4 separate regions of the Homo sapiens genome follow, and regions 1, 2 and 3 are each linked to region 4. The links come from fine-mapping of genetic effects on gene expression. A gene starts in region 4. Each other region holds a variant in brackets. All regions are shown on one strand. Distances are from middle to middle.

Region 1 (8,174 bases), 62 kb before region 4:
CAGGCGTGCACCAACTCACCCAACTAATTTTTGTGTTTTTTAAGTAGAGACAGGGTTTCACCACATTGGTCAGGCTGGTCTCGAACTCCTGACCTCGTGATTCACCCGCCTTGGCCTCCCAAAGGGCTGGGATTACAGGCATGAGTCACGACACCCAGCCCTTACTTTCTTAATAAACTTGCTTTCACTTTACTCTATGAACTTGCCCCAAATTCTTTCTTGTGCCAAGTCCAAGAACCCTCTCTTGGGGTCTGAATCTGGACCCCTTTCCAATAACTTTCACCTTGATATTCCTCATTCTCTGGCACTGAGGAGGCTTCATATTATGTGAACTGGTAGCCTGCTTTGTCAAAGTGGCCCAAGGATACTGGTTGCAAAGCCTTGCCCTGAGAGAATGTTGCCAGCTCAAGATGCTGGTGAAATTCTTGCTGGCAGGACCAGCTCCTGACAGAACAGCTCTGCACTGGCTTCCCCACCCTTTTGGCCTTTCTCTAACCTTTCCTGAAAAAGGTGGGGCTGATAACAGGTAGTCCAAGCCCTACAAAGCTCTCTGCCCCCCTTAAGTCTCTGGAGTTCTTATAACAATAAGGTGTGGTGGTTGAGAACAAGGCTCTAGTCTCTGCCACTTTACTAGCTTTGTATCCTCTCAAAGTTATTTTTTAACCCCAGTTTCCTCATCTATGAACGTGGGATCGTGATATTTAGTGCAGAGTTGCAAGAAGCAATAAATGAGCCACTGGGACATGGTAAGGGCTCAATAAATATGATACTTTAATAGCAGTAGTGGTGTGGGTTTCTCTTCTCAAAGTCGTGGGTGAATTCAAGCCCTCAGGCCTACTCTATGACACCCACAAAAAATAAATACAAAAGAACAAAAAGAAAAGGAAACAATGAAAAAACAAACTTCAAATTGCCTTATTCTCTTATTTGCCCTTGGTTGCATTCTAAAACCTCTATCTCCACCCAGTTTCAGTGTCCTTTTGCTGCCCTGTTTTAACCAGAAATCTATACCATCCCATTGACCTTGGCTCAGAATGCCCTCCCACATGCACCCTGGCACACAACATTTAAATCCTGCCTCCCATTACATCAAACTCCCACTGTCTCTGTGGCTTTGGTCAGCAGACACACTGGACCGGCCCTGGGTACTGGCACATCACACTGCTACCTTCAAAGGATGATTTGAGGAGGGCAAGAAGAACATGTACTTCCAAGGATCTCCCCCACTGGTCTGCTGCAGAGCCTTTCTTTTTTCCTCACTGGCCTAAAATGCCCAGTGTGAAACCTCCAGTTCAAGCGACATTGTCCCCCATAAGCTACTATAGAGATGTTCATTTATCACATGGGCAGCAAAGAAAGCCACTTCACTTACTAGGGAACCAGTAAGCCATCAATTCCCCAAAATTGGTGAGACCGGTGCATTGAAAAGGGAGCCAGGTGAAGGAACTGGGCTTTGGGATGGGGAAGTTTTGATGGGACCACAGGGAGAAAACATTTTACTTCATGAAAATCAAGCAGCTCTCCAACCATAACTAGTGGGGAAGAATGAGGGCTCAACAGCTAGGAGCTTAGAAAGTAAGATGTCCAAGGTTGTAGGGCAGAGCCAGGGAAGGTCAACTTCTCCCACTTTCCCTTCGCGTTGCCCAGGCCCTGCCTTCCAGAACCAGAAGGCAGCAGCTGTCTGGCTGGATATGCATATTCATGGTTGCTGCAGACAGAGAGGCGTGAATATTTTAAACCTATGTTTTCTGTTTCTGTCATGAGCTTGAAATCTTTTGCAGCCAAATTGTAGAAGGCAGGAAGTTTGAAGGGAAAAATCATTAGCTTCTTGGGCTTAAAGAGCCATAAACTTTTTTCATCTGCAGGGACTGTGGGGTAATCGATATCTAGGGAAAGGGGTAGGGAATACTACATGTGAGGTTTTTGTCATGCCCCTGTGGTGGGTCACCTTATATGGAAAAAGAACCAAGGGTAGGAAGAACAATAGTAAATGCAGATAGAACAGAACAACACAAGCTTTTAAAATTTTTCCAGTTCAGGTATGTGTGTGTGTGTGTGTATATATATGTGTGCGTATATATATATGCATGTGTGTGTATAGATATATATATGTGTGTGTGTGTGTATATATGTGTGTGTGTATATATATGTGTGTGTGTATATATGTGTGCATATATATATATGCGTGTGTGTATAGATATATATGTGTGTGTGTGTGTGTGTGTATATATATTGAGATGGAGTCTTGCTCTTGTTGCCCAGGCTAGAGTGTAGTGGCATGATCTCGGCTCAATGCAACCTCCACCTCCCAGGTTCAAGCGATTCTGCTGCCTCAGCCTCCTGAGTAGCTGGGATTACAGACATCCGCCACCACGCCTAGCTAATGTTTGTACTTTTAGTGGAGATGGGGTTTCGCCATGTTGGCCAGGCTGGTCTCAAACTCCTGACCTCAGGTGATCAGCCCACCTCGGCCTCCCAAAGTGCTGGGACTACAGGCATGAGCCACCGCACCCGGCCTAAAGTTTCTCCAGTTCTTAAGTCATTACTTTATGTTAGCTGAAGCCTTGAATTATCAAACATAATTTTTATTGACTTCCACGAATGCCATTAACATTTGGCTTATTCCTCCCCAATGCTTCCACACCTAAAAATAAAAAGAAAATAAGACAGGCAGATATATTAGGATAACAACCCTCCTTGACTCCCAAAATCTCAGTGGCTTGAGAGATAAAAGTACCTCTGAAGGAAATTAAAATATTTTACCCCATCTGGACATGATGGCTCCTGCCTGTAATCCCAGCACTTTGGGAGGCTGAGGTAGGAGGATCACTTGAGCCCGGAGTTCAAGACCAGACTGGGCAACATAATGAGACCCCCGTCTCTATGAAAATATGTATATATAAGAAAAAATATTTTATGCCTAATTATATTTCTTTTTTTTCTTTTGAGATGAAGTCTCGCTCTTGTCCCCCAGGCTGGAGTGCAATGGTGCGATTTCGGCTCACTGCAACTTCTGCCTCCTGGATTCAAGCGATTCTCCTGCCTCGGCTCCCCGGAATAGCTGGGATTACAGGCACCTGCCACCACGCCCAGCTAATTTTTGTATTTTTAGTAGAAACGGGGTTTCACCATGTTGGCCAGGCTCGTCTAGAATTCCTGACCTGCAGTGATCCACCTGCCTCGGCCTCCCAAAGTGCTGGGATTACAGGCGTGAGCCACCGCGCCCAGCCGCCCAATTATATTTCTATGACATATTTTGAAATGGCTGTGGCTTGGCCATCCTGACAGAAGTGGCCTTGAAAAGCTGTCTTAAGTGGGGACATTTTCAATCTGTATGGAGTCTACAAGAATGCAGCCTGTCCTCCCCTTCCTATCCCTTTCGCCAGACACAGAAGAGATTGAGAGTCTGACATCTTTAAAAGTCTAAAAAGAAATCTTTCACATCTATTCTCTCTGAGGGAGGCTTCATTTACATAACAAGGCCACCTTTGCTAGCCAAGCCTCTACTCCCCCTCCTATAAACTTTTTTATCAGAACCTAAGCCCTTATTATTTCTGTAATCTCAAAATGGTATATATATTTCTGTAAATCATTGCAAACTTGGGTCTTCATTCTGAAGGCTCCTGTGTATACACATTACATACATTTGTATGCCTCTTCTCCTATTAACCAATCCACCTCATATCAGTGATTTTTACCAAACCTTTAGAGGGCCAAGAACCTATGGCTCCCACACTTCTCATTTCATCGAAGTCCAAGTGGGATGCCATCACTCAGGTGCTTGTATCCTTCCAGCGGATTCTCTATATGGAACCAGCCAATAAGGGAGAAAGAAGGAGCATAAAGAAGGCTCTCCTGTACTTGACCAGATGTGACTCAACATTGAAACCACCTGCATAAAAATTATACCAGTGAGAGAATTATCGCATTGGTGGGGGGCTGTCATTTAGCCAAGCCCCCTCTTGCCTTTAGCCTTCAAGCTGCCCTTAATTATTCCTGGACTTAAGCCAAGCTGACTTTGGGAGACATTTCATTTATAGTTTAAATGATAATCACCCTTCCCCAAAACTCAACTGCCTTTATAAA[C/G]CTAATGAGAGACTACCAGGCTAGGAGGATAGAGGAGCTTGAATTCTGCTGAGGTGTAAATTGTTGCTGCTGTTATTCCAGAAGTGAAAAGATATGTGACTTCCCCAATTACTCCTGCAAATAACATCACTATCGTAGAATGTAAGATTGACTTTTTGAGATGTCTTTTCCGGGCCGGGTGCAGTGGCTTACTCCTGTAATCCCAGCACTTTGGGAGGCCGAGGCAGGCGGATCACGAGGTCTAGAGTTTGAGACTCAGCCTGGCCAACATGGTGGATCCCCCTCTCTACTAAAACTACAAAAATTAGCTGGGTGTGGTGGCATACTTCTGTAATCCCAGCCACTCGGGAGGCTGAGACAGGAGGCAGAGGTTGCAGTGAGCTGAGACCACACCATTGCACTCCAACCTGGGTGTCAGACTCCATCTCAAAACAAGGAAAAAAAAAACTAAACAAATGTATTTTCCAGTTTTTTACAAGTCTGACATCGATGGCTCCATCTGGACCTGCCAACCACTCCTGTGGCCCCACCCAGAAGCAACTCAGCACACAGGAGGACAATTTTCCACACCCCAATGATTGAATCCCCAACCAATCAGCAGCAAGCCCCAGTTGTCTATCCACCTCCACCCCTTTCCCCAAACCATCTTTGAAAAACCTCTAACCTGGCAGAGAGTGGTGCCTCACACCTGTAATCCCAGCATTTTGGGAGGCCGAGGCGGGTGGATCACCTGAGGTAAGGAGTTGAAGACCAGCCTGGCCAACATGCTGAAACCCCGTCTCTACTAAAAATACAAAAATTAGCCGGGCATGATGTCCAGTGCTTGTAATACCAGCTAGTCGGGTGGCTGAGGCGGGAGAATCACTTGAACCTGGGAGGCGGAGTTTGCAGTGAGACGAGATTGCGCCACTGCACTCCAGCCTGGGCAACTGAGCAAAACTCCGTCTCAAAAAAAAAAAAAAAGAAAAAAGAAAAGGAAAACCCCTAACTTCCAAACATTGGAGGAGATTGATTAGAATAATAATAAAACCTTGGTCTCCTGTTCAGCCAGCTCTGCATGAATTAAACTCTTTGTCCATTGCAATTTCCCTGCTTTGATAAATCAGCTCCATCTGGGCAGCAGGCAAGAAGAACCCATTGAGCTGTTACATCATCATTGCAGCTTACATTACATTGTGGGTAGCTACTCTGTGGTCCAAACTTAATGCAAAGGGGCTGGAAAAACATAATCCAGCTGTGTGCTGAAAGTGGATTGGTGAAAAGAAAATGGATTGGCAAGCACCTGGTCTCTCCCACAGCAAATGACATTAACTTTGGCAGCTAGTCAGTTTCACATTTGGTTTTTCTCTTCATTGGCACAATATATAATGCAGACATGGCTGGATTGAGCAAGATTGATGTTCGCAGGAGCCAGATAAATCATCTTCCTCTAGATTGGCAGATATTTGGCAGTTTGCTGTCACTTCTTATTTCCTGACCGTAGCAGTTACAGCTAATTAATCGTGACACTCCTTCCCTATAACTGCAGTCACAGTCACATAATCCTTCTCAGTATGGAGCTGTGGACAGTCAGAACCAATGGATCAAAGTCAGCATACAATACAAACCTACTGGCATCTCGATTCTCTTTATCCCTTACATTTTATAGGTGAGGAAACTGAAACCTAAGGAAGTAGAATAATTTGATCATTGACAAAGTTATAGTGAGTTCCTATAAGGGAGGAGACCACCCCTCATATCATCTTATGCCCAATTTCTGCCTCCAAAGAAAGAAGAAGTAAAAACTAAAAGGCAGAAATGAAATCCACAGGCAGACAGCCCGGTGCCGCACCCTGGGCCTGGTAGTTAAAGATCGACCCCTGATCTAATCAGTTATGTTATCTATAGATTACAGACATTGTATAGAAATGCACTGTGAAAATCCCTATCCTGTTTTGTTCTGATCTAATTACCGGTGCATGCAGCCCGCAGTCACGTACCCACTGCTTGCTCAATCAATCATGACCCTCTCACACGCACCCCCTTAGAGTTGTGAGCCTTTAAAAGGGACAGGAATTGCTCACTTGGGGGGCTCAGCTCTTGAGACAGGAGTCTTGCCGATGCCCCCGGCTGAATAAACCCCTTCCTTCTTTAACTCGGTGTCTGAGGAGTTTTGTCTGCGGCTTGTCCTGCTACACCTACTATACACTAGACACTCTGCTACGCTCAGGCAATGTTACTTTAAACAAGACACACCCTTTCCTTCAGGAAGTTAAGGGAGAAAAGGAAGTCAGGTTGTTAGAGTAGGCAGTCAGGCAGATATGAGCAGGGCAGGAGAGCGCCCAGCCCATCAACCACCACCATCAGATGATGGTGAGGCAGTTGTTAAACTGTTTCTCTAACGTAGTAATTAGCTGCAGCTGGTGGCAGGGAAAAGCAGTCTCGCAATACATAGAAAACACCTGAAGCTGGTGATCAGCCACTTCCCCTGATAAGATCTCAGGAGTTGGGCGAGTGGGCTCAAATATGTGCACTAAGAGGCAAAAGGGTGGAGTTTAACTGGTATATGACCTTCCTCTGGGAACACTCAACTAGTTAGGAAGAATGCCTCAAGTGAGGCAGTGCACAACTTCAGTAAACACGCTGAGCATGTGGCCCCTCCCAAGTGCTGGCAGGCCACTGTGTATGCAGACAGCCTACCCCCGGGGAAGAATCAGAGAAGAGACACGAGAACCCAGAAGCATGCCAGTATATAAAACCCCAAGTCAAAAGTCAAACCATGGACTTGAATCTCTTAAGTCGCTCGCTTGGCCCTCTTCCACATGTACTTCACTTTCTTTTGTTCCTGCTCTAAAATTTTTTAATAAGCTTTCACTCCTGCTCTAAAACTTCCCTCGGTTTCTCCCTCTGCCTTGTGCCCTTCGGTCAAATTTTATCTTCTGAGGTATGGATTTGCTGCTGCTGACAAGATGAGTGGACAGGAAATTACAATACAGCATAACAAGTGGAAAGAAGAGACGAAGGCAAGATGCTATGAGAGAACATTGAAAACACCTTTGTGAAAATTGTAACGGTGAGAATATTATGACAGTCACAGAGATCTGACCTAACTGACTCCATCTTGCCTCTAATCTCCAAGCTATCCTTGTTCATTCCTGGGCATAGGCCAAACTAACTTTGGGAGGAACTTAGTTCATAGTGTAACTCTGAAACAAAGATAACACCCCTTTTCTGAAACAAACCCCCTTCTTGCCTGGGGACCAGACTGCCTTTGTAGGACTAACAAATTAGCCACAAGATTAGAAATTATGGTTTAGGAATTATGCAGCCACAGGCCACAACATTCCAAACCTCCCTAATTGCTCCCAGGGATAACAGCACTATTGTAAAACCTAAGATCAGTGCTCTAGGTACTTTTCAGACCCTGCATTTTGATGCAGCAGAGGGCGCCACCCAGACCAGTAAACCGACTCATCTGGTCTTGTGGCCTCTACTCAAAAACTGACTCAGCACAAGAGGACAGCCTTGACTTCCTATGATTTTTGTCTCCCACCCAACCAATCAGCACTCCCCACTCCCTGGCTCCCTACCCACAAAATTATCCTTTAAAATCCTCAGTCTCTGAATTGTCAGGGAGACTGATTTGAGTAATAATAAAACTCTGGTCTCCCATTCAACCGGCTCTGTGTGAATTAAAGTCTTTCTATATTGCAATTCCTGTCTTGATAAATTGTCTGTATCTGGCCAGTGGCAAATTAACCTGTTGGGTGGCTGCATGACAGTGGTAAATAAAAAGAATTATTTTGATCCTGATAAGGAACACTTTATTCAAAAGACTACTGTAATGGGGTTTTGTAGTAGGGGAGGGAGATTGGGCACAACTCCAAATACAACAACAACAACAAAAAAATGGGGATTTTGGCCAAGAAGCAGGGCAGAGGCATGAATGGATGGGAAATCACTAGGAGGGTAGGATAATTCTTGCTAAATTAGCCTAACAGGATTCTTGCTAAAGGCAGGCCAGGGTGATCAGATATCAAGGGTGAGGATTCTCTGTAAACTTACTGTCTTAGTTGATTTTGTGTTGCTATAACAGAATACCACAGACT
Region 2 (8,174 bases), 22 kb before region 4:
AAGACTGCCACCTCCTTGGGTTTTTGCATTGCATGCAATAACTCCATAATTTCCTTGTGGTATTTAATGGGGGTTCCCCCAGAGATTAGGAACTCCCTTTCTTTCCATATTGCAGCAAGAGCATGTAGAATTAGATAAGCATACTTGCTATCTGTATTTGCATTTATTCTTTTTCCCTTTCCCAGTTCAAAGGCTCGGGTAAGTGCCACTAGTTCTGCTAACTGAGCACTGGTCCCTGGGAGAAGAGGCTTACTTTCAAGTACAGTTACATCACTAACTATGGCATAACCTGCCCTTTGTATCCCATTCTCCACAAATGAGATTTCACTGGTATATAGGTTAAGGTCAGGATTAGCTAAGGGGAGTTCTAAGACATCATCTTGGCAGCATAAGTCTGGACTATAATTTGTTGGCAGTCATGCTCGATTGGTTCCCCATCCTCTGGGAGAAAAGTGGCAGGGTTGAGGGCCACACACATACATATCTGAAGCACTGGTTCCTCAAGGAGTAGCACCTGGTATCTAAGTAGGTGGTTGTCTGATCGCCATGAACGTCCTTTGGCACCTAGTATGCCATTTACATCATGAGTAGTCCAGACAGTGAGTTTCTTTCCTTGTACTATCTTGATAGCCTCTGACACTAAGACAGCCACCACTGCAACTACCCATAGTGAGGCCAGCCTTTTGCTACTACATCACTTTCCTTACTTAGATATGCCACTGGTTGTGGGGTTGTCCCCCGAGTCTGAGTAAGGACTCCAAGAGCTATCCCTGCTCTCTCTGTGACGTACAAAGAGAAGTTTTCTCCTGTGGGAAGGCTTAAATCTGGAGCTAGTACTAGGACCTGCTTTAAGGTTTTGAAGGCTGTTTTTTCCCCTGGTTCCCATTCTACTAGATGAGTATTTGCCCTCTGGGTTTCCTTGATTAGAGTATAGAGGTGCCTGGCTATCTGGCTGTATCCAGGGATCCATAGTCAGCAAAAGCCAGTGATTCCAGGGAACCCCCACAACTGTGTTAATGTCTTAGGGAAAGGACAAGCCAGTTTAGGCTGTGTTCATTCCTTGCTGAGGGCCCTGATCCCTCTGGCTAAGATTAGGCCTAGATATTTGACCTGCTGTAGGCAAAGCTGGGCCTTTGACCTAGACACCTTGTACCCTTGATTAGCGAGAAAGTTCAAGAGATCTAGAGTAGCCTGCTGGCATGAGGCTTCCAAACTGGTAGCCAAAAGTAAATCATCCACATACTGAAGGACCAGAGTGCCTGGACTTGAGAAGTGGCCTAGATCTTGGGCCAGTGCCTGGACTTGAGAATTGGCCTAGATATTGGGCCAGTGCCTGACCAAACAGGTGAGGGCTATCCCTAAACACTTGGGGCAAGACCATCCATGTAAGTTGGGATGTGTTTTCTGTGGGATCCTCTAAGGCAAAGAGAAACTGGGAGTCAGAGTGCAGAGGAATACAGAAGAAGGCATCCTTGAGTCCCAGAACCATGAACCATTCTGCTTCCTCTGGTATTTGAGAGAGCAGGGTATAAGGGTTGGGTACAACTGGATATAGAGGAATTACTGCCTCACTGATGAGTCTAAGATCTTGCACTAGTCTCCACTGACTGTTTGGTTTTTGTACTCCTAGAATTGGGATGTTGCAGGGACTGCTGCATTTCCTTACTAAGCCTTGAGTTTTTAAATGTTTAACAATATCCTGTAATCCTTTATGAGCTTCAGGTCTTAAGGGATATTGACTTTGATAAGGAAAAGTGGTGGGATCTTTTAGCCTGATTTGGACTGGGCAGCATTTTTTGCCCTTCCAAATTGTCCTTCCAATGCCCAGACTTCAGGGTTGATTCCCTCTTCAAACAGGGGACAACAAATGAATAACTTGTTCTCCATATTCATGTAGATAATAGCTCCAGCCTTGGCTAATATATCCCTCCCTAATAAGGGTTTGGGACTTTCAAGCATAACAAGTAAGGCATGTGAAAAGAGCAAAGTCTCCCAATTACAACTGAGGAGGTGGGAGAAATACCTGGTTACAGGCTGTCCCAGGATTCCTCAGATGGTAATGGACCTTGAGGACAGCCATCCAGGACAGGCAGTTAACACTGAGAAGGCCGCACCAGTGTCAAGGAGGAAGTCAATTTCCTGGCCCTTAATGGTTAAACGTAGCTGGGCTCATTGAGGGTGATGACATGAGCTGGCGCTTGCCCCAGGCACCCTCAATCCTGTTGTTGGATCATCTGGTTGGGGGCTTCTGACCCAGAGAACCTTTGTCCTCTGGGGCAGTGTACCTTCCAGTGATTGCCTTGGCATAGTGGACATGGATGAGGGGGCGGCTTGTTTCTCATTGGACAATCTTTTTTTAAGTGTCCTTGCAAACCACACTGGTAACAAGCCCTACAGGGTGATTGGCCTGCTCCATTTTCTGTCCTCTGTGAACCACCAAGGTTTGATTATCTGAGGGCCATGACTAAGGCTGTGGCCTTTCTCTGATCTTGCTTTTCCTTTTGGGCCTGTTCCTCTTGGTCCCTATTATAGAATACCGGGGTTGCCAGGTTTAATAATGCCTCCAAATTTTGTTCAGGGCCCAGGGCTTGCTTTTGGAGCTTTCTCCTGATATCTGTGACTGATTGGGTAATAAACTTATCTTTTAGAATCAATTGACCCTCGAGTGATTCAGGTGACTCGGGAGTATATTTCCTTAAGACCTCTCATAGCCACTCAAGGAAGGCAGAAGGATTTTCTTCCTTTCCCTGAGTTATGGTGGACATCATTGAATAATTCATGGGCTTTTTCCTAATTCTCCTTAGTCCTTCTAGAACACAGGTCAACAGATGTTTACAACTCCAGTCCCCGTGGTCTGCATCAAGGTCTCAGTGGGGATCCATACTGGGGATGGCTTGCTGACCGGAAGGGAATTTATCCCTTTCTTCAGCTGTCATTCTATCATTTACTTAACTAAGATACCAGGTATCTCCAAACTCTTGGGCTACAGCTAAAGCCGCATTCTTTTCATTAAAGGCCAGGGTTTGATCTAACAGTAGCATGACATCTCTCCAAGCAAGGTCGAAGGTTTGCCCTAGACCCTGTAGGACATCTATGTACCTATCAGGATCATCTGAAAACTTCCCCAGGTCTGCCTTGATCTTCTTTAAATCAGAGAGGGAGAAGGGGACATGTACCCGGGTTGGGCCAAATTCCCCTCCCCCGACAGCTTGAAGGGGACATAACAAATAGCCTGAGGATTCTTGTGGTCCTTTGGAGATTTCTTTGCTTATTTCTTTCTGGGCAGGAGAGATTAGAGGAGGATTATCATTAATAGGAAGGGGAGCTATAGGAAGGCTAGGATATGGGGGTAAGCTGAGAGGTCCTCCTGTGGGATGTAAATTGCAAGCTTTGCGTAGTTGTGTATTCTCCCTCAATGAAAAGGAGGCTTGGACATAAGGTATTTGACTCCATTTGCCTTTCCTCTTACAGAAAAGGTCAAACTGCAGGATAGTATTGTAATTTGTACTTCCCTCAGGTGGCCATTTTTCCCCATCAGAGAGAATATTGAGGCCAAGCCGTAGTGCAGAAAAAAATGAGCTGCCTCTTTTTCAGGGTTTGCAGGTCAAATTGGTCCCAATGGCTTAGGATGCATTTCAAGGGTGAGCCTGTTGATGCCTGAGTGTTTCCCATCTGAAAGACAAAAACTGCCTGCGGTTTTGATTTGTTTTTTTCTCCCCCTGCCCAAGAACCTGCAATGGTCCCTGGCCCCTGCTGATCAGAATAGTTGTGCTCACTGACAGCAGCAGAAACAACCCCTGCCCAAGAACCCGCAACGGTCCCTGGACCCTGCTGATTGGAATAATTGCTCTCACCAACGCAGCAGCAGAAACACTAGTCTTCCTCCCAGACCACAAGGAGAACCGAGGAAGGTCGGATTTAGTGGCCCTTACTGATGCATTCTTGAAAACCTGCACCCTTGCCTGTCCTCCTAGACCACAAAGAGGACCAAGAAAAATCGGATTTAGTGGCTAACCTTACTGATGCAGTCTCGAAAACCTGTTAGAGTCCTAAGCATTCTACTGTTAGTATTGGGACCTTACCCATGTCCTATAAAGATGTTATGCCCATAAAATGAAGTGGAGGGCCATGCCCTGAGGGAGGGAAGAGTTGGAAGAGTGATGCCAACCCAGAGTTGGAAGAGTGATGCCTTTTGTCCTCACTTATATGAATA[G/A]TGAGGAAGGATACAATTTCTGAGGCTCCCCATATCCTAGCTTCAGGAATAGCTTTTGTTAGGCCTACTTGTCTGAGGAGGGATCCTAAAATTCCAGATAGTACCCCCAACGAGTCTTTGGCCAAAAATTTTGTCTTTCTGATTGGTGAGCCCGGGTGTCTAAAGAAGGTAACAGAGTCCTGGAGTTTATACTAGAAATCATTCTTATAGAAGAAACTAGAAAAGCACCAGAGACAGGGAGCGATTTTTAGAAGCAGGACTAGCCTCGGAGAAGAGAGGCGAGAGGAAGTTTGTCTGGCAGGCATTAGGACACAGAGGGCAAGGATCAGGATAGGTAGGATAGATGGGCGAGTCTCGCTTGGGCAACATGCCTTTGAGAGTTCCACTCATGGCCACAGGCTCAACCAACTTGTTGTCAGGACCCCAGAGCTGAATGGCTTTCCTCTCTGTCAACCCTCAGCTCAGCCCTGAAGTACAGGAAAAGCAGAAGCTGGTTCCAGGCAAACCAACACTCCCAACGCCGAAGAGTCGGGGGTTTTTAGAGAAAGCCCTTTCCCAGGAAGCCTGACACCCATGTCTTTAGTCCAGCGGCTAAACTAGTCGCTTTTAACTGGCCGACAGGTGCCCAGCATTTAGCCCCCGAATTCTAAGGAAAAGTAGGACAGAATAGCAAGTGAAAGGGGTCCGATGGTACTCACTGCTTGGCGATAGGTGACAGTCTCACTGCTCAGCCATAGGCAATGGTCTCACCGCTTGGCGATAGTCCCATCTGGTCGCCAAAATGTGTCTGGAATTGGTGGATTCTTGGTCTCACTGACTTCAAGAATGAAGCTGCAGACCCTGTTGGTGAGTGTTACGGCTCTTAAGGCAGCACATCTAGAGTTGTTCATTCCTCCTGTCCAGAGTTGTTCATTCCTCCCGGTGGGTTCGAGGTCTCGCTGGCCTCAGGAGTGAAGCTGCAGACCTTCGCAGTGAGTGTTACAGCTCATACAAGAAGTGTGGACCCAAAGAGTGAGCAGCAGCCAGATTTATTGCAAAGAGTGAAAGAACAAAGCTTCCACAGTGTGGAAACGGACCTGGGTGGGTTGCCACTGCTGCCTCGGGCAGCCTGCTTTTATTCCCTTATCTGGCCCCACCCACATCCTGCTGAATGGTCCATTTTACAGAGAGCTGATTGGTCCGTTTTACAGAGAGTGGATTGGTCTGTTTTACAGAGAGCTGATTGGTCCGTTTTGACAGGGTGCTGATTGGTGCGTTTACAATCCCTGAGCTAGACACAGAGCACTGATTGGTCCATTTACAACCCTCTAGCTAGACACAGAGTGCTGATTGGTGCATTTGCAAACCTTGAGCTAGACACAGAGTGCTGATTGGTGCGTTTACAAACCTTGAGCTAGACACAGAGTACTGATTAGTGCATTTACAATCCTCCAGCTACATGTAAAAGTTCTCCAAGACCCCACGTGACTCAGGACCCAGCTGGCTTCGCCTAGTGGATCCCACACCGAGGCCGCAGGTGGAGCTGCCCGCCAGTCCTGTGCCACACGCCTGCACTCTTCAGCCCTTGGGTGGTCGATGGGATTGGGCACCATGGAGCAGGGGGTGGCACCTGTTGGGGAGGCTCAGGCCACGTGAGATCCCCCCGTTCAGGGGGCTCGGGCATGGCAGGCTGCAGGTCCCGAGCCCTGCCCCGCAGGGAGGCAGCTGAGGCCCAGCGAGAATTTGAGCATGGCACAGGTGGGCCGGCAGTGCTGGGGGACCCGGTGCCCCCTCCTCAGCTGCTGGCCCGGGTGCTAAGGACCTCACTGCCTGGGGCCAGCTGGCAGCTCTGAGTGCGGGGCCTGCTGAGCCCATGCCCACCCGGAACTTGCGCTGGCCCGTGAGCATGCCCGCACCTCTCCCTCCACACCTACCCGCAAGCAGAGGGAGCTGGCTCTGGCCTCAGCCAGCCCAGAGAGGGGCAGTGGTAGGCTGAAAGGCTCCTCAAGCATGGCCAGAGTGGATGCCAAGGCAGAGGAGGCACTGAGAGCAATCGAGGGCTGCTAACACATTGTCACCTCTCACTAGCACTTTGAGAGACCAAGGCAGATGGATTGCCTGAGCTCAGGAGTTCAAGACCAGCCTGGGCAACACGGTGAAACCCTGTCTCTACTAAAACACATAAACAAATAGCCAGGTGTGGTGGTGTATGTGTGTAATCCCAGCTACTTGGGAGGCTGAGGCAGGAGAATCGCTTAAACCTGGGAGGTGGAGGTTGCAGTGTGCAGAGATTGCACCACTGCACTCCAGCCTGGGTGACAAAGCAAGACTGTGTCTCAAAAAAAAAAAAAGAAATGTAGGGGTAAATCTTCAGGACCTCACATTAGGCAATAGTTTTATTCATTCATTCATTCATTCATTCATTCATTTAAATAGAGATGGGGCCAGGCGCTGTGGCTCATGCCTGTAATCCTAGCACTTTGGGAGGCCAAGGCAGGCAGATTACTTGAGCTCAGGAGTTCGAGACCAGCCTGACCAACATAGTGAAATGCCATCTTTACTAAAAATACAAAAATTTGCTGGGTGTGGTGGTGTGCATCTGTAGTTCCAGCTACTTGGGAAGCTGAGGCAGAAGAATTGCTTGAACTCGGGAGGCGGAGGTTGCAGCAAGCCAATATCTCATCACCGCACTCCAGCCTGGGCAAAAGAGCAGGACTCTGTCTCATAAATAAATAAGGCAGAGGGTGCAATGGCTCACACCTATAATCACTGTACTTTGGGAGGCAGAGACGGGTGGATCACCTGAGGTTGGGGGTTCAAGACCAACCTGACCAACATGGAGAAACCCTGTCTCTACCAAAAATATAAAATTAGCTGGGTGTGGTGGCAGGTGCTTGTAATCCCAGCTACTCGGGAGGCTGAGGCAGGAGAATCACTTGAACCTGGGAGGCAGAGGTTGCAGTGAGCTGAGATCACACCATTGCACTCCAGCCTACGTAACAAGAGCAAAAAAAAAAAAAAGTACAAATGGCAAATAAGCACATAAAAAGATATTCAACATCACTAACCAACAGGGAAACATAAATAAAAAAAAAATGAGATACTACTTCATACCTAACAATAAAAAAGACAGATGATAGTAAGTTCTCTTTTCTCTTTTTCTTTTTTTTTTTTTAAACCTCATGATGCAACAGTAGATAATACATTGTAACCAGGATGTGGAGAAATTAAAACCCTCATACATTGCTGGGAAGAATGTAAAATGGTAATGCCGCTTTGTAAATCAGTCTGGCAGCTACTCAGAAACTTAAATATAGACTCCAGAGGCTGAGGTAGGAGGATTGCTTGAACCCAGGAGTTTGAGGCCAGCCTGGACAACATAGCAAGCGCTTGTCTCTAAAAAACAAACAAGCAAAAACACAGAGTTACCATGTGACCTATCAGTTCCATTTATAGGTATATACTCAAGAGGATTGAAAACATTTCTGCAGAAAAATTTGTATACAAGTGTTCAGAGCAGCATTATTCATAGTAGCCAAAAAGTAGAACCCAAAAGTATATCAATGGCTGCATGGGCTGGGCATGGTGGCTCGTGCCTATAATCCCAGCACTTTGGAGGCTGAAGCAAAAAGATTGCTTGAGGTCAGGAGTTCAAGACCAGCTTAGGCAACATAGCCAGAATATTTTTTAGAGACCTTGTTTCTAAAACAAAATTTTTTTAATTAGCCAGTTGTGGTGCTGGTGTGGGCCTTTAGTCCTAGGAGTACTGAGAAGTTGAAGTGGGAGGATCGCTTGAGTCCAGGATTTTGAAGCTGCAAATGAGCTATTATTGCCCCACTGCACTCCAGCTTGGGTAACAGAGCTAGGCCCTGTCTGTAAAAAAAATTTTTTAATGAAATAAAATAAAATCTGTTGCATGGGACAGGGCACAGTGGCTCATGCCTATAATCCCAACACTTTGGGAGGTCGAGGTGGGTGGATC
Region 3 (8,174 bases), 74 kb before region 4:
GCATGAGTCACCTTGCCTGGCCTCATCATTATTAATAATTAAAGAACATGGAATCAACCCAAATGCCCATCAGTGATAGACTGGACAAAGAAAATGTGGTATATATACACCATGGAATACTATGCAGCCATAAAAAAGAACGAGCTCATGTCCTTTGCAGGGACATGGATGGAGCTGGAAGCCATTATCCTCAGCAAATTAACACAGGAACAGAAAGCCTAACACTGTATGTTCTCACTTATAAGTGGGAGCTGAACAATGAAAACACATGGACACAGGCAGAGAAACAACACACACTGGGGCCTTTTGAGGCAAGGGGGAGGGACAGCATCAGGAAAAATAGCTAATGCATGTGGGGCTTAACATCTAGGTGATGGGTCGATAGGTGCAGCAAACCACCATGGCACACATTTACCTATGTTAACAAACCTGTACGTCCTGCACATGTATCCCAGAACTGAAAATAAAACAAAATTTAAAAATAATAATAATAATTAAGGAAGCACAAATTTAACCACAATGAGATACCATTAAACGATCCTTAGAATGGCTACAATTAAAAAGACTGACAATACCAGAGTCATTGCACTCCCAGACGGGAGTGCAATGGCACGATCTCGGCTCACTGCAGTTTAAATAAATGAAACATTTAAAAAGTTATATTTAGGCCGGGCGTGGTGGCTTACACCTGTAATCCCAGCACTTTGGGAGGACAAAGCAGGTGGATCACTTGAGGTCAGGAGTTCAAGACCAACCTGGGTAACATGGTGAAACCCCATCTCTACTAAAAACACAAAAATTAGCCGGGTGTGGTGGCACACACCTATAATCCCAGCTACTCAGGAAGCTGAGGCAGGAGAATCGCTTAAACCTAGGAGGTGAAGGCTGCACTGAGCCGAGATTGTACCACTGCACTCCAGCCTGCGTGACAGAGCAGGACATCATCTCAAAACAACAACAAAAAAATTATTTGATTTATAAAAGTACAGCTATTACATGTTTCTGTTTGCCCTAATAGTGTTTTCTGAAATTGTGATATATATTATTTCTTAAAATATTTTTATTTTTTCTCAAATATACTTTTATATTTGCTCTTTATAACAAAAAGTTAAACATTAAAATGTTTAAAAGGGCCATGGTCAGGTACAGTGGCTCACACCTGTAGTCCCAACACTTTGGGAGGTTGAAGCAAGAGGATCACTTGAGCCCAGGAATTTGAGACCAACCCGGGCAACAAAGTGAGACCCTGTTTCTACAAAGAACAGAAAAATTAGCCAGATGTGGAGGTGCACACCTGTGGTCCCAGCTACAGGGGAGGCTGAGGCAGGAGGATCCCTTGAGCCCAGGAGGTCAAGGCTGTAGTCAGCCTTATTCATGCCACTGCATTCCATCCTGGGCAACAGAGCGAGACCCTCTCTTAAAAAATAATAATAATAAAAATAGCCAGGCACGGTGGCTCATGCTTGTAATCCCAGCACTTTGGGAGGCCAAAGTGGGTGGATAACGAGGTCAGGAGTTTGAGACGAGCCTGACCAACATGGAGAAACCCCGTCTCTACTAAAAATACAAAAATTAGCCAGGCGTGGTGGCGCGCACCTGTAATCCTAGCTACACAGGAGGCTGAGGCAGGAGAATCGCTTGAACCCAGGAGGCAGAGGTTGCAGTGAGCTGAGACCATGCCACTGCACTCCAGCCTAGGTGACAGAGCAAGACTCCATCTCAAAAAAAATAATAATAATTAATAAATAAAATAAAATTATTGCAATAAATATCTGACAGAGATTGTTGTTTGTGTGTGTGTGTGTATATATATCTTTACACACTTTCACTAATATTTTTAAGATAAAAATTTAAACATAAGGTGCTAGTGAAACTGCCCTTGCAAAAATTATAACTGAGAAAATTATCACGGTGAAAGGGACCTGACCTAACTGAATCTATCTTGCTTCTAACCTCCAAGCTATCTTTGCTCATTCCTGGGCATAGGGTGAACTAACTTTGAGAGGAAATTACTTTATAGTTTAACTCTAAAACAAGACAATAAAACTCTTTCCCAAAACAAACCGCTTCTTGCCTGAGGAATAGACACCCTTCACATAACTAACAATTAGCTACAAGATTAGAAATTATGGCTTAGGAGTCATTCAGCTGAAGGTTGCAAGATTCTGAACCTCCCCAAATCGCTCCCAGGGATAATATCACTTTTGTAAAGCTTAATATCAGTGCTTGAGATATTTTGCCTATTCTGCACTCAGTGGATCAGCTGGCACCACCCACATAGATAAACTGCCTCATCCAGTCTTGTGGCCCCTACCTAGGAACTGACTCAGCAAAAGAGGTCAGCTTTGACTCCCTATGATTTCATCTCCAACCCGGCCAATCAGCACTCCCCAATTTCTGACCCCTTACCCACCAAATTCTCCTTAAAAACCCCAATCCTGGAGTTTTCGGGAAGATTGATTTGAGTAATAACTCCATCTCCCATATGGTGTGGCCAGCCTCCCATCAATAAAATTCTTTCTTTACTGCAATGCCATGGTCTTTATTTGTGCAGCAGGCAGGAAGAACCCATCAGATGGTTACACTGGGTCAAAGGATATGCACTTAAAGTGTTTATAGATGATTCCAAGTTTTCCCCAAAAATGGCTGCACTAATTTATGCCCTTTTCTGCCTTACTTCTATGTCGACATTGAAAAATATTTGCCAGTATATGAAGGAGGGGGAGGAGGAGGAGAAGAAAAAGAAATTTGATACAATATGATACAGAGAAATACTATCTTGCTTCATTTTACATTTCTTTATTAAAAAGATTTAATCTTTCATATTTTTCCTATCTAATGGGGCTTACATTTTTTCTTTTTTGAGTTGCCTATTCATATTCTTTGCTCTCTTTCTACAGAGCTGTTTCTATGTTTCGTTTCTTTTCTTTTCTTTTCTTTTTTCTGAGATGGAGTCTTGCTCTTGTTGTCCAGGCTGGAGTGCGGTGGCACCATCTCAGCTCACCGCAACCTCCACTTCTCGGGTTCAAGCGATTCTCCTGCCTCAGCCTCCTGAGTAGCTGGGATTACAGGCACGTGCCACCATGCCTGGCTAATTTTGTATTTTTAGTAGAGATGGGATTTCTCCATGTTGGTCAGGGTGGTCTTGAACTCCCGACCTCAGGTGATTCACCCGCCTCAGCCTCCCAAAGTGCTGGGATTACAGGTGTGAGCCACCGTGCCTGGCCAGTGTTTGTATGTTTCTTGTTGATTTTAGGAGTACTTTATCTTTTAAGTACTTTTTAGGTAAATATTTGCAAATATTTTCATCCAGCCTACGGTTTTTCTTTTAACTTTTCATTTTAATGTGGTTTACAGTGTTCAGCTTTTTGTTTCCTTGTGCTTTATTTTTGGTCATATCATTTTATAATCAAAATGTTTAATGTGTGCTATTGGTCACAAGAAGGACTTAGTGATAGTGTGAATCTATCAGTGTAAGAATTCCCCACATGTAGAAAAACTGCAAATGTGTAGATCCTAATGAGGCTGGCCAGAAGCAAAGCCATTCTCATGAAGCAAA[G/T]AATTATAGCTATTTTCCTGCTCTAAATAACCTAGGTATCATTTAGTGAAGTCTACAGAATTCTAATTTTAAGTAGAGAAACTCTCCGGGAATGTTTAACCGATATTCACATCATGTTTACAGAATTCTGAATGGAATTTCTTAGCACGTATTCAACCAAGGGAATCGAAAAATAAGGCACTCATGCTATCACCACCATCACTACCCCATTTCTTTACTCATTGTAGAAACTGCTAATTGATCACTCTTTCTTCCAGAGCCCAGATGTGGCCTAAAAGGTTTTCTCTATGAATCAGTAGAGTAAGCTGTTACCAACAGTTTGGGATTAGCACATAAGACAAAACCTGTTTTGCCACCCTGGTTCTAGCCCAATATTTCATAGTTAGAGGAAGAAATGAAGGGCCAGGTTGAGACTGTGACTTAACACGGGATCATGCAGCAAGTTAGTTGTAAAGCCGCAGCTCAAAACCAGCCTCCTGCTGCCCACTCTAACGCTCCTTCCAGGGCATGACTATGTCCTGCCTCTTCCGCCACCCCCAGAGGTGGCCCCTCATAGAATATGTGGTAAGGTCCCTTACAAAGAGTAAATTATACATAGAAACATTTTAGTCACAATGTATATGTCAATAACATCCTAATAGGGTTAAAGCTGGATTAGGAAGGGCCTTGTTGGGCAATTGATGGGGGTACCAATCTGTAAGGGGCCCTGAAACACATGACAAACATGAGGAAGTGGAGAACTTGTCTCAGGGAAAGCTCTGTATGGAATTGAATAAAATATGGAATAAAGTTGTTGCAGAAGGAGTGAGGAAGAAGAGTTGCCTCAAGGAGCAGGCCCAGTACCAACACAGAGTCACTAAGCAGCTAGTCTGATGAACTTTTTCTTTGGTGAGTGGAACAATAATACATTATTGGGGGCCAGAAGCAGTGGCTCACACCTGTAATCCCAACACTTTGAGAGGCTGAGGTGGGAGGATCGCTTGAGGCCAGGAGTTTGAGACCAGCCTCAGAAACATCGTGAGACACCATCTCTACAAAAAATTTTAAAAATTAGCTGGAAATAGTGGCACATGCCAGTAGTCATAGCTACTTGGGAAGCTGAGGACTGCTTGATCCCAGGAGCTTGAGTTTACAGTAATCATAGCTCAAGCTGTGATCGCTCCAATGCACTCTAGCCTGGGTGACAGAATGAGACTCTGTCTCTTAAAAAATTAAATAAATAATTGGGAATAATAAAAGAGAAACTAAAGATTGACAAAAGCGAGCCTCCTCCTCCATCCTTCTCCATGCATGCACCACTTCTCCTCTAAACTAACATTGACAAGTATCTAAGGACTATCAATTTAGAGTATCACCACATTATTAACCTACTGAGCACCAAATTGCTAGTTCTCAGAGGCACATGGCATGTCTCCAGCCAGCTTTATTTACTCCCACCCTAAACTCTTCCATCTTGCCTCCTCTAAAAAGGCTTCCTGCCGGGCGCGGTGGCTCACACCTGTAATCCCAGCACTTTGGGAGGCCGAGGCAGGTGGATCACAAGGTCAGGGGTTCGAGACCAGTCTGGGCAACATGGTGAAACTCCATCTCTACTAAAAATACAAAAGTTAGCCGGGTGTGGTGGCAAGTGCCTGTAATCCCAGCTACTCGGGAGGCTGAGGCAGGAGAATCGCTTGAACCCGGGAAGGCAGAGGTTGCAGTGAGCCGAGTTTGCTCCATTGCACTCCAGCCAGGGCAACAGAGTGAAGCTCCATCTCAGAAAAAATAATAATAAAAATAAAATAAAGGCTTCTTGGGCCTGGCATGGTGGCTCACACCTGTAATCCCAGCACTTTGGGAGGCCAAGGTGGGAAGATCACCTGAGGTCAGGAGTTCGAGACCAGCCTAGCCAACACAGTGAAACCCCGTTTCTACTAAAAATACAAATATTGTTTTTCCTCCCTGACGCCGCCGAGGTCACACACGTGAGGCCTCTCCACCACCGCCCCAATGCGGTACATCGCCTCCTAATTGCTGGCTGCCCTCGGGGGTAACCCCTCCCCCAGCAACAAGGACATCAAGAAGATCCTGGACAGCGTGGGCATCGAGACGGACAATGACCGGCTCAACAAGGTTATTAGTGAGCTGAATGGAAAAAACATTGAAGACGTCATTGCCAAGAGTATTAGCAAGCTTGCCAATGTACCTGCTGGTGGGGCTGTGGCCGTCTCTGCTGCCCCAGGCTCTGCAGCCCCTGCAGCTGGTTCCACCCCCTGCTGCAGCAGAGGAGAAGAAAGATGAGAAAGAGGAGTCTGAAGAGTAAAACGATGACATGGGATTTGGCCTCTTTGGTTAAACTCCTGCTCCCCTCCAAATAAAGCCTTTTACACATCTCTCAAGTTAAAAAAAAAAAAATTAGCCCAGCATATAGTGGGCACCTGTAATCCCAGCTACTCAGGAGGCTGAGTGGGGAGAATTGTTTGAACCTGGGAGGTAGAGGTTGCAGTGAGCCGAGATCACGCCATTGCACTCCAGCCTGGGAGACGGAGGGAGACTCCGTCTCAAAAAAAAAAAGAAAAAAGGCTTCCTGGACAGCTGCCCTGCCCGTGCTACCTATTTCTTTTTTTGCTTATCATCTGCACCCTGACTAGGCCCTGGGACCATGCCAGCTGTTATTGGCAAGCGTCTCTCTATGGAAGTACAACCTGCTTCTTCTTCACAGGCATAAACTGTGCCTTTTCCTCTTTCATGTCATGCAGCACGTGGTTAACACAATCTTGTTCAAAAAGCATTTATTAAATGGCAAAAAGAATACTATGGTAACTTATGGGCTTGACTTTCAAAGGATCCATGGAGACCTTGGAAGCAAGCTTCAAGGCCTATCTCATTGGCTCCTCTACTATTCATGAAAGGATTCTGCTTAGAGAGGTGTTTTTTTGTTGTTGTTTTTTGTTTTTGTCACCCAAGCCAGAGTGCAGTGAGGCACTCTCAGCTCACTGCAACCTCTGCCTCCCAGGTTCAAGTGATTCTCATGCCTCAGCCTCCCAAGTAGCTGCGATTATAGGCATGCACCACCATGCCCAGCTAATTTTTGCATTTTTTTGTAGAGACGGGGTTTCACCAGTGTTGGCCAGGCTGGTCTCAAACTCTTGACCTCAAGCCATCTGCCTGCCTTGGCCACCCAAAGTGCTAGGATTACAGGCGTGAGCCACCATTCCCACCCAAGAGGCATCATTTTGAATTGCTGCTATGGTTTGAATGTGTCCCTCAAAGCTCATGTTTTGGAAACTAAATGCCTAGTGCAGCAGTGTTGACAGGTGGGAACTTAGAGGTAATTAGATCATGAGAGCCCCTCATTAATGAATTAATGCTGATATTGTGGGAGTGGTTTCCTGATAAAAGGATGAGTTTAGCCCCTTCCCCCCATGTCTCTCTCCCTATCATCTCCCTCCCTTCCTCCCCCTTCTTCCCCTCTCCCTCCCTCTCTTGCTCTTCTGCCACATGCCATGGAATGATGCCACAAGAAGAACCTCATTGCTATTAGACTTCCCAGCCTTCAGAACTGAGAGAATTTTTTTTGTTTTGTTTTTTTGTTTTGCCGAGACAGGGTCTCCTTCTGTCACCCAGGCTGGAATAATGCAGTGGGGCAATCATGGCTCACTGCAGCCTCAACCTCCTGGGCTCAACTGATCTGCCCGCCTCAGCCTCCTGAGCAGCTGGGAATACAGGCATGCACCACCATGTCCACCTAATTTTTGTATTTTTTTTTTTTTTTTTTTTTTGAGACGGAGTCTCGCTCTGTCGCCCAGGCTGGAGTGCAGTGGCGGGATCTCGGCTCACTGCAAGCTCCGCCTCCCGGGTTCACGCCATTCTCCTGCCTCAGCCTCCCAAGTAGCTGGGACTACAGGCGCCCGCCACTACGCCCGGCTAATTTTTTGTATTTTTTTGTAGAGAGGGTGTTTCGCCATGTTGCCCAGGTTGGTCTCAAACTCCTGGGCTCAAGTGATCCACCCCCCTCAGCCTCCCAAAGTGCTGGGACTACAGGTGTGAGCCACCCCATGGAGAAATTTCTTTATAAATTATCCAGTCAGTGGTATTCTGCTGTTGCAACACAAAATGCACTAAAACAATCGCCTTAGCTGTTCTTATTTTGCAACCGATTCCCATTTAATCATAGTATTATAGATATGTAACATGTACTTCTACCTCCCCTCATGCCTAAGGCTCATAGCAATTTGTAGTGAGGCCCACATGGAATTTATTTATCCTCTATCTTGAAGGCTGAAATAGGGGACAAAGGTAGGAAAGAAATAAAAGTGGGGCAGAAATAAGGGAAGGATGCGGTGAATGCTGATGTGAGTTCACTGATAAACGCTAAACTTTATTTAGAAGACTGGCTCTGGCCAGGCACAGTGGCTCATGCATGTAATTCCAGCACTTTGGGAGACCAAGGCAGGCAGATCACTTGAGGTCAGGAGTTCAAAACAAGCTTGGCCAAAATGGTGAAACCCCGTCTCTACGGGAAAAAAAAAAAAAATTATATATACACACACACACACACACAGAGATAGATATAGGTAGATAGATATAGATATAGAAATATAGAAGAGTGGCTCTTGGCCGGGAGCGGTGTCTC
Region 4 (8,174 bases):
CAAATTCTGTAAGGCAGGCCTCTCTAGAGGTGATAGGACCCAAGATAGGCATATGGTCCAAACTGGGCCAATCAGAGTTATCTTTTGAGATGTCAGAGTCAGTGGATGAAAGACCAAAGTTCCTCTTCTCCCTTGGATGCCTAATAGAAAATGTGGTTACAGCTGGGTGCAGTGGCTCACGCCTGTAATCCCAGCACTTTGGGAGGCCGAGGCAGGTGGACCACCTGAGGTCAGGAGTTCAAGACCAGCCTGGCCAACATGGTGAAACCCTGTCTCCACTAAAAATACAAAAAAAAAACTGGCCAGGAGCAGTGGCTCACACCTGTAATCCCAGCACTTTGGGAGGCCGAGGCGGGTGGATCACCTGAGGTCAGGAGTTCAAGACCAGCCTGACCAACATGGTGAAACCCTGTCTTTACTAAAGATACAAAAAACTAGCTGGGCTTGGTGGCAGATGCCTGTAATCCCAGCTACTCGGGAGGCTGAGACAGGAGAATTGCTTGAACCCAGGAGGCGGAGGTTGCAGTGAGCCAAGATTGCACCACTTCACTCCAGCCTGGGTGACAGAGCGAGACTCCATCTCAAAAAAAAAAAAAAAGAAAGAAAGAAACCAATATTCTGACCTCTGGAGATGAACAGTCAGGTGTGATCAAAAACAAGACTCGTGAGTCCAAATACTGAAACCAAGGTGCAAATGTTCACCTGCTGTGTCAGTTTGAGTACTACAGGAAACAGAAGCCAAGATGGAATTAGAAGTATAAGATATATTAGGGGAAATGCCTATGAAGGAAAAAGGGAAGCGAGAGCAAGAGCAGGTGGTAAGGGTCTGAGACCACAAGGAAGTTCTGACACCTGTCAAGGAAGAGAAGGAAGGAAGGAAGATTGGGTAGGAAGAGTATCTGATTGCAGCAAGGCTTTGAGGAAATCTGGGCCAAGTCGATGGGAAGCCCAGGTCAATGATTGCCCGGTGAAGGAGTCCAGCACTGGGCAGAAATGGCCTGGCTCCAGCACACCTTTCTCAGTCATTGCTGGGAATAGCCCTACAGAGAGTATGCCGTTGGCATAAATGATCCCAGAGGAAGACAGCAGGAAGCTGTCAGTCAACCACACTCCTTGCAACTGGTTCTCTTGAAAGTAGGTCTGAATGGTGCTTTTCCATGGCTGCCATACCCATGTACCATGAATTAAACTCCCCCAAGGGAACTCTAGGGAGGTGACCGCATGAAATAAGCAGTCAGTGTCCATTGTCTACACTGCTTCTCACAACACACATCATTAACATAACTGAGTATATATGTATATATATATTTTTTTTGAGATGAGTTTCGTATGCGATCTCAGCTCACTGCAACCTCCACCTCCCGGGTTCAAGCGATTCTCCTGCCTCAGCCCCCCGAGTAACTGGGATTACAGGCATGCGCCACCACGCCCAGCTAATTTTGTATTTTTAGTAGAGACAGGGTTTCTTCATATTGGTCAGGCTGGTCTCGAACTCCCGACCTCCGGTGATCCACCCACCTTGGCCTCTCAAAGTGCTGGGATTACAGGCGTGAGCCACCACATCCGGCCTTTTTTTTTTTTTTTTCCTTCAAAACGTGTGTTGGTTTGGCCTTACTAAAAGTGTCAGCTCATTTAGTAAAAAATATATGTTTTCCTGAAGAAGAGTGGGTGGAGCATTTTCTCATTTATTTTTCTACCATGAACATATTTGAATTGCCACAAAGAAGTTACTATGGAAACTGCTCTCGAACTTGCAAGATAAAAGGTAAAAATGGAACACTTTGTTGAAATGCAAATAGTCTCTGGAGATCACTTTTTAACAAAGTCTCCGGGTCTGATTTTTCTGAGTCCTTTAAAGGCTCTCTTGAATTAGAAGCGGACAGGCAGATTTTTTGGCTTTACATTCCAGATGGCTCCAGCTGACTGTGCAAATGTCACAGGTGACAACTCTAGGATGGGTCTAGACGTATGCAAACTTGGTTTTGGAATGAGCAAAGAGGCTGACAGTGCCCTGCTGTGAACACCCAAACAGGCCCAGGGGAGGGAAGGTGGTTGTTTCTGGGCCAGGCCCGTTCTGCAGGTGTACTCTGGACTCACTTGTTTGAAAGTTAACTTGCTGAGCTCTTATTTATGCAAAGTAGTTTCTCTTTCTTATCTCCTCTGGCCACATTCCATCTCTGGGATCTTGAGCTGGATAGTCTTTTCAACAAAAAAACACAAACTTCTTATTTGAAAGCCCTATTCCTCTACCCATCTCTGCTCATCTTTACCTGCCTCTCCCCACCCACCTCTCCAACTCACTTCATATCAGCCCAAGTACTCCTACCATTACAAAGCTCTGAGATAACTTTGGATTTCTGCTTGTTGTAATTTTCTGCCTGTCAATTCCTTCAACCTTGCTTCTTTCTCTTGGGGCCTCAATCCGAAAGCCTTACTGAAACTTTTTTCAAAGCTGCTTTCGGTAATTAAGTGAATGCAACTTGGAGAGGGTTTCCTGTAGTCTCAGCTACTTGAGAGACTGAGGTGGGAGGATTGCTTGAGCCCAGGAGTTTCAGATCAGCTGGGGCAACAGAGTGAGACCTCCAGCTCAAAAAAAAAAAAAAAGAAAAAGAAAAAGAAAATAGAAAAGAGGTGGTTTCACTTGAGGGACCAGGGTCCGAGGTTGTTTATTTGGGATTATTGTTACCTAGCTTCATGACTAGCAACCATCAATTTCACTTCTTTGTGAATTGGAGTCTTTATTTGATCCTTTCGAGGGATCCTTCCATTTCAACCTCCTAAGTAGCTGGCCTCACAAGAGTGTGCCCCAACGCCTGGCTTTTTTTTTTTTTTTTTTTTTTTTTTTAAAGACTGGGCTGGCAGGGGGATCTCACTTTGCTGCCCAGGCTGGTCTCAAACTCCTGGGCTCAAGTGATCCTCCTGCCTTGGCCTCCCAGCCTCCCAAAATGCTGGGATAACAGGCGTGAGCCACTGTGCCTGGCCTGTAATGAACTATTGTAGAACCTAAGATTGGCCTTTTAAGACGTCTTTTCAGGCTTTTGCATTTCTGACAAACGGATGACCCCACCCAGACCAGCCACTCCTCTGCTGGCCCTCCATCAAGAAGCCGATTCAGCAAAGGAGAACCATTTTCCATACTCCTCTGATTGCATCCCTAACCAATCAGCAGCACCCATGCCCTAACCCTCTGCTCACCAAACTATCTTTGAAAAACTCTAGCTTCCAAATGTTCAGGAAGATTGATTTGAGTAATAACTCTGTCTCTCAAGTGGCATGGCCAGCCTCATGTCAAACTCTTCACTGCAATGACTTGGTCGCAGTGAATTGACTTTATCTGTAAAGTGGGCAGAAAGAACCCGCTAAGCAATTACACTATATGCAATTATCTTAAATGTTTCCTTGATTATTATATGTTTCTTCCAATTACGTTTGAATTCCAAGAGAGCTGGGTCTTTAACTATATTCCCCACTTCTGGAACATACAAGATGCTCAATAAATATTTGTAGAATGAAAAGAACTGTAAAATTTCAGCAGATGGATCAAATGAAACTTAAGGTTGCTTGTAGCTTTAACATGAGCATTGATAAAAATGAGTAAGTAGAGAAGGAAGTGATGACAACCATTGCAACAAAGCAATGGAAGCAATGTGCATATTTATCCTTAAAAAACACAAACCTGTCATATGTATGTGTATGTGTGCGTGTATATATAATGTTGGCTTTTTAGTTTCCCGTGGAGTGTGAACTGAGTTTCTGAGGTTTATAGTAAAGCATTTAACAAGGATTTCAGGTAGTTGTCTAAATATAAAACATTGTATCATAGAATTAGAGCGGAAAAGGATTTAGAATACAAGTTCTTCAATTTTACAGGGGTGGAAACTAAGGCCTAGAGATCTAAGTGTACTTGGGCATTGGGAAATAAATACAGCGATGTGTCTGTCGATGAGGAATGCGTATGCCAATCATACTTCTGTATAATCATTACTAATAACATAGTAATACTGCCTTACATTTGAAAAGTGTTTGAGTGTGACTAGACCCTGCACCAGTGGTTCTGAAACTTGAGCGTGATCAGAATCACCTAGAGGATTTGTAAAAGCACAGATCGCTGGGCCCCACCTCCAAAATTTCTGGCTCGGTAGGTCTGGGGCCGGGGACTGGGAAAGCTTAAGAGAAACCATCCCAACTCCTCTCAGCTCTCCCAACTCAACCTCTCAGCTCTCCCAACTCAACCGGCCGAGCTCGGCACTCAGGGAAAACTACAAGTCCCGGCGTGCCCCGCGCGCAGCGGCGGAAAGTCGGACACTTCCGCTCCACGCAGCGCCTGTGCTGCCGCGTCTCGACGTGTCACCGGCGGCGCCGCTGCTGTGGCAAAGGAAGGAGCTGACTGGGGGAGTTCGAGGCGGCGGGCGGCGGTGACCCCGGCCTGGAACTGCCCCGGTACGGAAGTGTTCCGGGGTCCGTGGGGAGCAGGAGAGGGAGGCGGCGGACCGTCCCGCGCGGGGCACGATGTTGAACATGTGGAAGGTGCGCGAGCTGGTGGACAAAGCGTGAGTATCGGGGGGCAGTTGTGGCCGAGGCCCACGTGGGGGAGGGGGGAGGGGGAGAAGGAGCTGGCCTTGGGCTAGGGGTTGCCCACGTCACGCCCCCTGGCTCTGCCAGCCCCATCATGGCGGCGGCCCGCTCCTTCCCGGCCCCGGGCCTCATCCCCGCTGGCGAGGCTGGGGAGGGACCCTCCCTCGTTTTAAAAAAAAACATCCTCTTGGCCACCCTTCTCTCCTTTCCAGGCCTTCCCGTCCCTTCCCCTATTCCAACCCCTGGGTGCCGACGCTTTGGTCATAAGGGGCGGGTTGTTTGGCGCTGGGTCACTGCCCTGGCCGGAGGACTGTCTTGGCCCCAGGCCGTGGGCTTTGCCTCCTGGGGAGCAGGGAAGGTTTGGGGGTGGGGGGCACAATGCACTGGTTCCCTGTGTCCCTCAAGGTGTAGTACGGAGAGACCTTAGACCTGGTTGGGGTGTGTCTTTTATCTTCCTTGCCTCCTCTTAATTCCTAATGAACCTGAAGTGTTGGAGTGGGTGGTAGTAGTGTAACAAGTGGCTATTGTGGTCAGCCTGAAGTTACTCAAGAAGACACTCATCCTTTGCTTTTCTAACACTAGTGAAAGTAGATCACTATATGACTTCTTGCGATTTTTTCTTCTGTTTCTTTTTCCACTACACATCATTTTTGGTGTGCTACTTGTTCCATTCGATTAAATTAAGAGGTCATTAAGAAATGTCCTCTTAAGGAAAAAAACAACCCAGGTTTATATCCTGTTGATCTGCTTTTAAAAGCAGGTAAAACGACCAGTACGTAGTTGATTTCCTTTAAGACTGAAATAACTTTAGTCTCTTACTTGCACAAGGAAAACCTTAACTTTTAAAATGAGTATATCAGGTATAACAGTGGTTAAGTAAGGTCTTCTAGGCCAGCAGGAAATAAAGTTTAAGAATTTAAGCAGTCCTCTTCCTTTGGGGCTTTAATGATTATGCAATAAGTGTGGTGAGAAAAACAGTTGATTTGTGCCACCCACCTAACCTAAAATCAGGAAGTATAGATAGCAAACTGTTTTCTTGACACCAGGAAACAAAGTAATTTCCAGTGCCTTGTCTGATACATCAGATAGAACTTAGAGCTTGACCATATTTTTATATTTTCTGTGCTACCAAGAAGGCAATAGAGTGCCTAAGGAGCACAGGTTTCAGAACCTGCAAAGCTGGGTTCAAGCTTTATAACCTTGGGGAAGTTACTTATCCTCACAGTGCCCTAGTTTTCTCTGGTACAAAATGAAAATGCAACGATACCTACCTTAGAATGTTGTTGTGAGGCTTAAGGGTTAAGGGATTGTATTGCATATAAAGCCCTTAACAGAATATGTTTATATTAGTGTACTTTTGAAACTAGCAAATGTTTTGCATTTAGAGTGAAATAAACCTCTTTAAGAAAGAAGCTTCAAGTTTGAAAAGTGATTTGCTTTAATAATTTTCCTTTATAACAACTCATTTGGCTATTAAGGCTTCAGCTATTTATTTCGGACTATTTAGCTATTTATATATTCTTTGCTTTTGCTTACCGAAGATGAAATAAACTAGATCTTTTCCAGATCTAGGTTCATTGGCATTTTTTTAGTATATTGTGTAAAGATTAGGATATCAACTTAAATAGTTTTTTAAAGGCCAAAAGAAGACTAAAAGCTACCTTTTTTTTTTTTTTTTTTGATGGGGTCTCATTCTTTTGTGTGTTCATAACTCACTGCACCCTCCAACTCCTGGGCTCAAGTGATCCTCCCACCTCAGCCTCCCAAGTGGCCAGGACTACAGGCATGCATCACCGTGCCTGGCACTGCCTCCTTATTTCTCAGTCAGAGGTCAGAAGAATAAAACCATTAAGAAACACCTTGTTCTCTTAGAGGACCAAATTTGTGGTACTCAAAAATTTGAAGAGGCTGTACATTGTTCGTAAGACAGAAATCGAGGCAATATTCCTACTATTGTTGTACCTTTCATATTTGCTTATCACACTTGTTACTAATCTTCACGTGCTTTAGGTTAAATTTGCCATGTAAGTAGTTATCTAAAGGAAAAGCTATTGTTGAAAAATATTATCTATCTTTTTACTACCCAATTTAGGATGTAGACTTGAACCAAATTATTCAAGAACATAGAAGAATGTTGTCACCAAAGACTTTTTAAGGCTTTTGTGGGTGTCTGACACATATTAAGATTAGAACATGAGGTTGATTTACTGATGAGTACTCGGGATTTTAATTTTCATCTTTTCACTGGCAAGAAGAGAAGAAATTCTTCCCCCCAAATGTAAGCATCTTACAGAACCGTGGATCTGTTAGACTGTGCACCTTATAATGCCATAATAGACGTGCATCCATAGAATGGTTGGTCTGATTATCAGAGGTATAAAATGATGAAGGAACTTGCAAATGAAGAAGCAGTGACGTGATTAAGGGCTATTCAGATAGATGGATCAATAGAATGAGGGCTTCTATGAGAGAAAGGTTAGGGGTTTAACTATCTGGTTCATATTCTGGCATTACGTTTTTAATTAGCTGTATGTATGATTTGAGGCAGAATCACATGAATCTCCAGACTTTGCCTTCCTTATCTGTAAAATGAGGGGACCTGGCTAGAGTAAGACTTTTTCCACCTTTGATGGCTATTGGAGAAATGCATTTCCATCAAGGAAAAATAGTTGGAACTAGTTTTTACAATAGCAGACAAATTTTGGAGCCATTATCCTCTGTAGACAATTTAGGCTGAAAAGGGAAATTTTCTTAAAAAGTGGTAATCAATAAATGTTATACTTAAATATTTTATGCAATAAATAAGACCATGACTCAGGAAGACTAGGACTTTTAGTGTATATTGATACCCAGTGAGGTTTTACTTCAGAAAAAGAAATGTACTCTGAAAAATGTGTTTCCTGGAGCCACTCTTAGATTCAGTATGGTAGCGGCTCTTAAGTGTAATGATGTATTTCTTTTTTTTTTTTGAGATGGGGTTTCGCTCTTGTTCCCGGGGCTGAAGTGCAGTGGCGAGATCTCAGCTCACTGCAGCTTACACTTCTGGGGTTCAAGCGAGTCTCCTGCCTCAGCCTCCCTAGTAGCTGGAATTACAGGTGCCTGCCACCACACCCAGCTAATCTGTGTATTTTTAGTAGACACGGGGTTTCGCCATGTTGGCCAGGCTGGTCTTGAACTCCTGACCTCAGGTGATCCACCCATCTCAGCTACTCAAAGTGATAATGATGTATTTCAAACACTGGCTTTTGAGACCTTGAAGACTTTTTCTGGAAGTGGGGGTATATTTTCCACAATCGCTGCACCTCCTGGTGGCAGTAGAGGGATTTGTTTTGCAGAACATTGTGGAACTGAGGGAAGCAGATAAAGCCATAGGCCTGCCAGAGCTTGGAATGCCAGTATCTTCCCACTCGTCAAGTTGCATAAAAGGCGATGTGGCAGGAAAGGATAAGTGGCACCATTCCCACCAACTAGGAGCACTAGCTTAATCATTGTCATCCTATGACCTATCTTTACTTGTGGCTGTAATAAAATTGGACATGTTTATATTTTGTCATCCTATACATGGTAAAATTGAAAGTTGCTGCAGTTCTATTTTCTCT

What was found. PIP is the estimated chance that this variant, and not a neighbour inherited with it, causes the effect.
Region 1: its variant is the best candidate, but not a certain one, in a credible set for the expression of CLINT1 in lung (TOPMed, PIP 0.89).
Region 2: its variant is the best candidate, but not a certain one, in a credible set for the expression of CLINT1 in whole blood (INTERVAL, PIP 0.64).
Region 3: its variant is the best candidate, but not a certain one, in a credible set for the expression of CLINT1 in whole blood (TOPMed, PIP 0.50).

What each region holds. Positions count from the first base shown.
Region 1 is chr5:157,917,469-157,925,642 of GRCh38, reverse strand. No RefSeq gene overlaps it. Among named protein-coding and RNA genes, the nearest start is that of CLINT1, 62 kb to the right of the region's middle. RefSeq lists silencers at 5,834-5,976, 7,489-7,598. The variant C/G (reference allele first, on the strand shown) is at 4,087.
Region 2 is chr5:157,877,251-157,885,424 of GRCh38, reverse strand. No RefSeq gene overlaps it. Among named protein-coding and RNA genes, the nearest start is that of CLINT1, 22 kb to the right of the region's middle. RefSeq lists an enhancer at 3,273-3,918. The variant G/A (reference allele first, on the strand shown) is at 4,214.
Region 3 is chr5:157,928,938-157,937,111 of GRCh38, reverse strand. It overlaps the pseudogene RPLP2P2. Among named protein-coding and RNA genes, the nearest start is that of CLINT1, 74 kb to the right of the region's middle. The variant G/T (reference allele first, on the strand shown) is at 3,560.
Region 4 is chr5:157,855,306-157,863,479 of GRCh38, reverse strand. It overlaps CLINT1 (clathrin interactor 1), which reads left to right and starts at 4,335. Exons shown (of 12, transcript NM_014666.4): 1 at 4,335-4,550. The coding sequence starts at 4,510. RefSeq lists enhancers at 4,047-4,286, 4,124-4,705.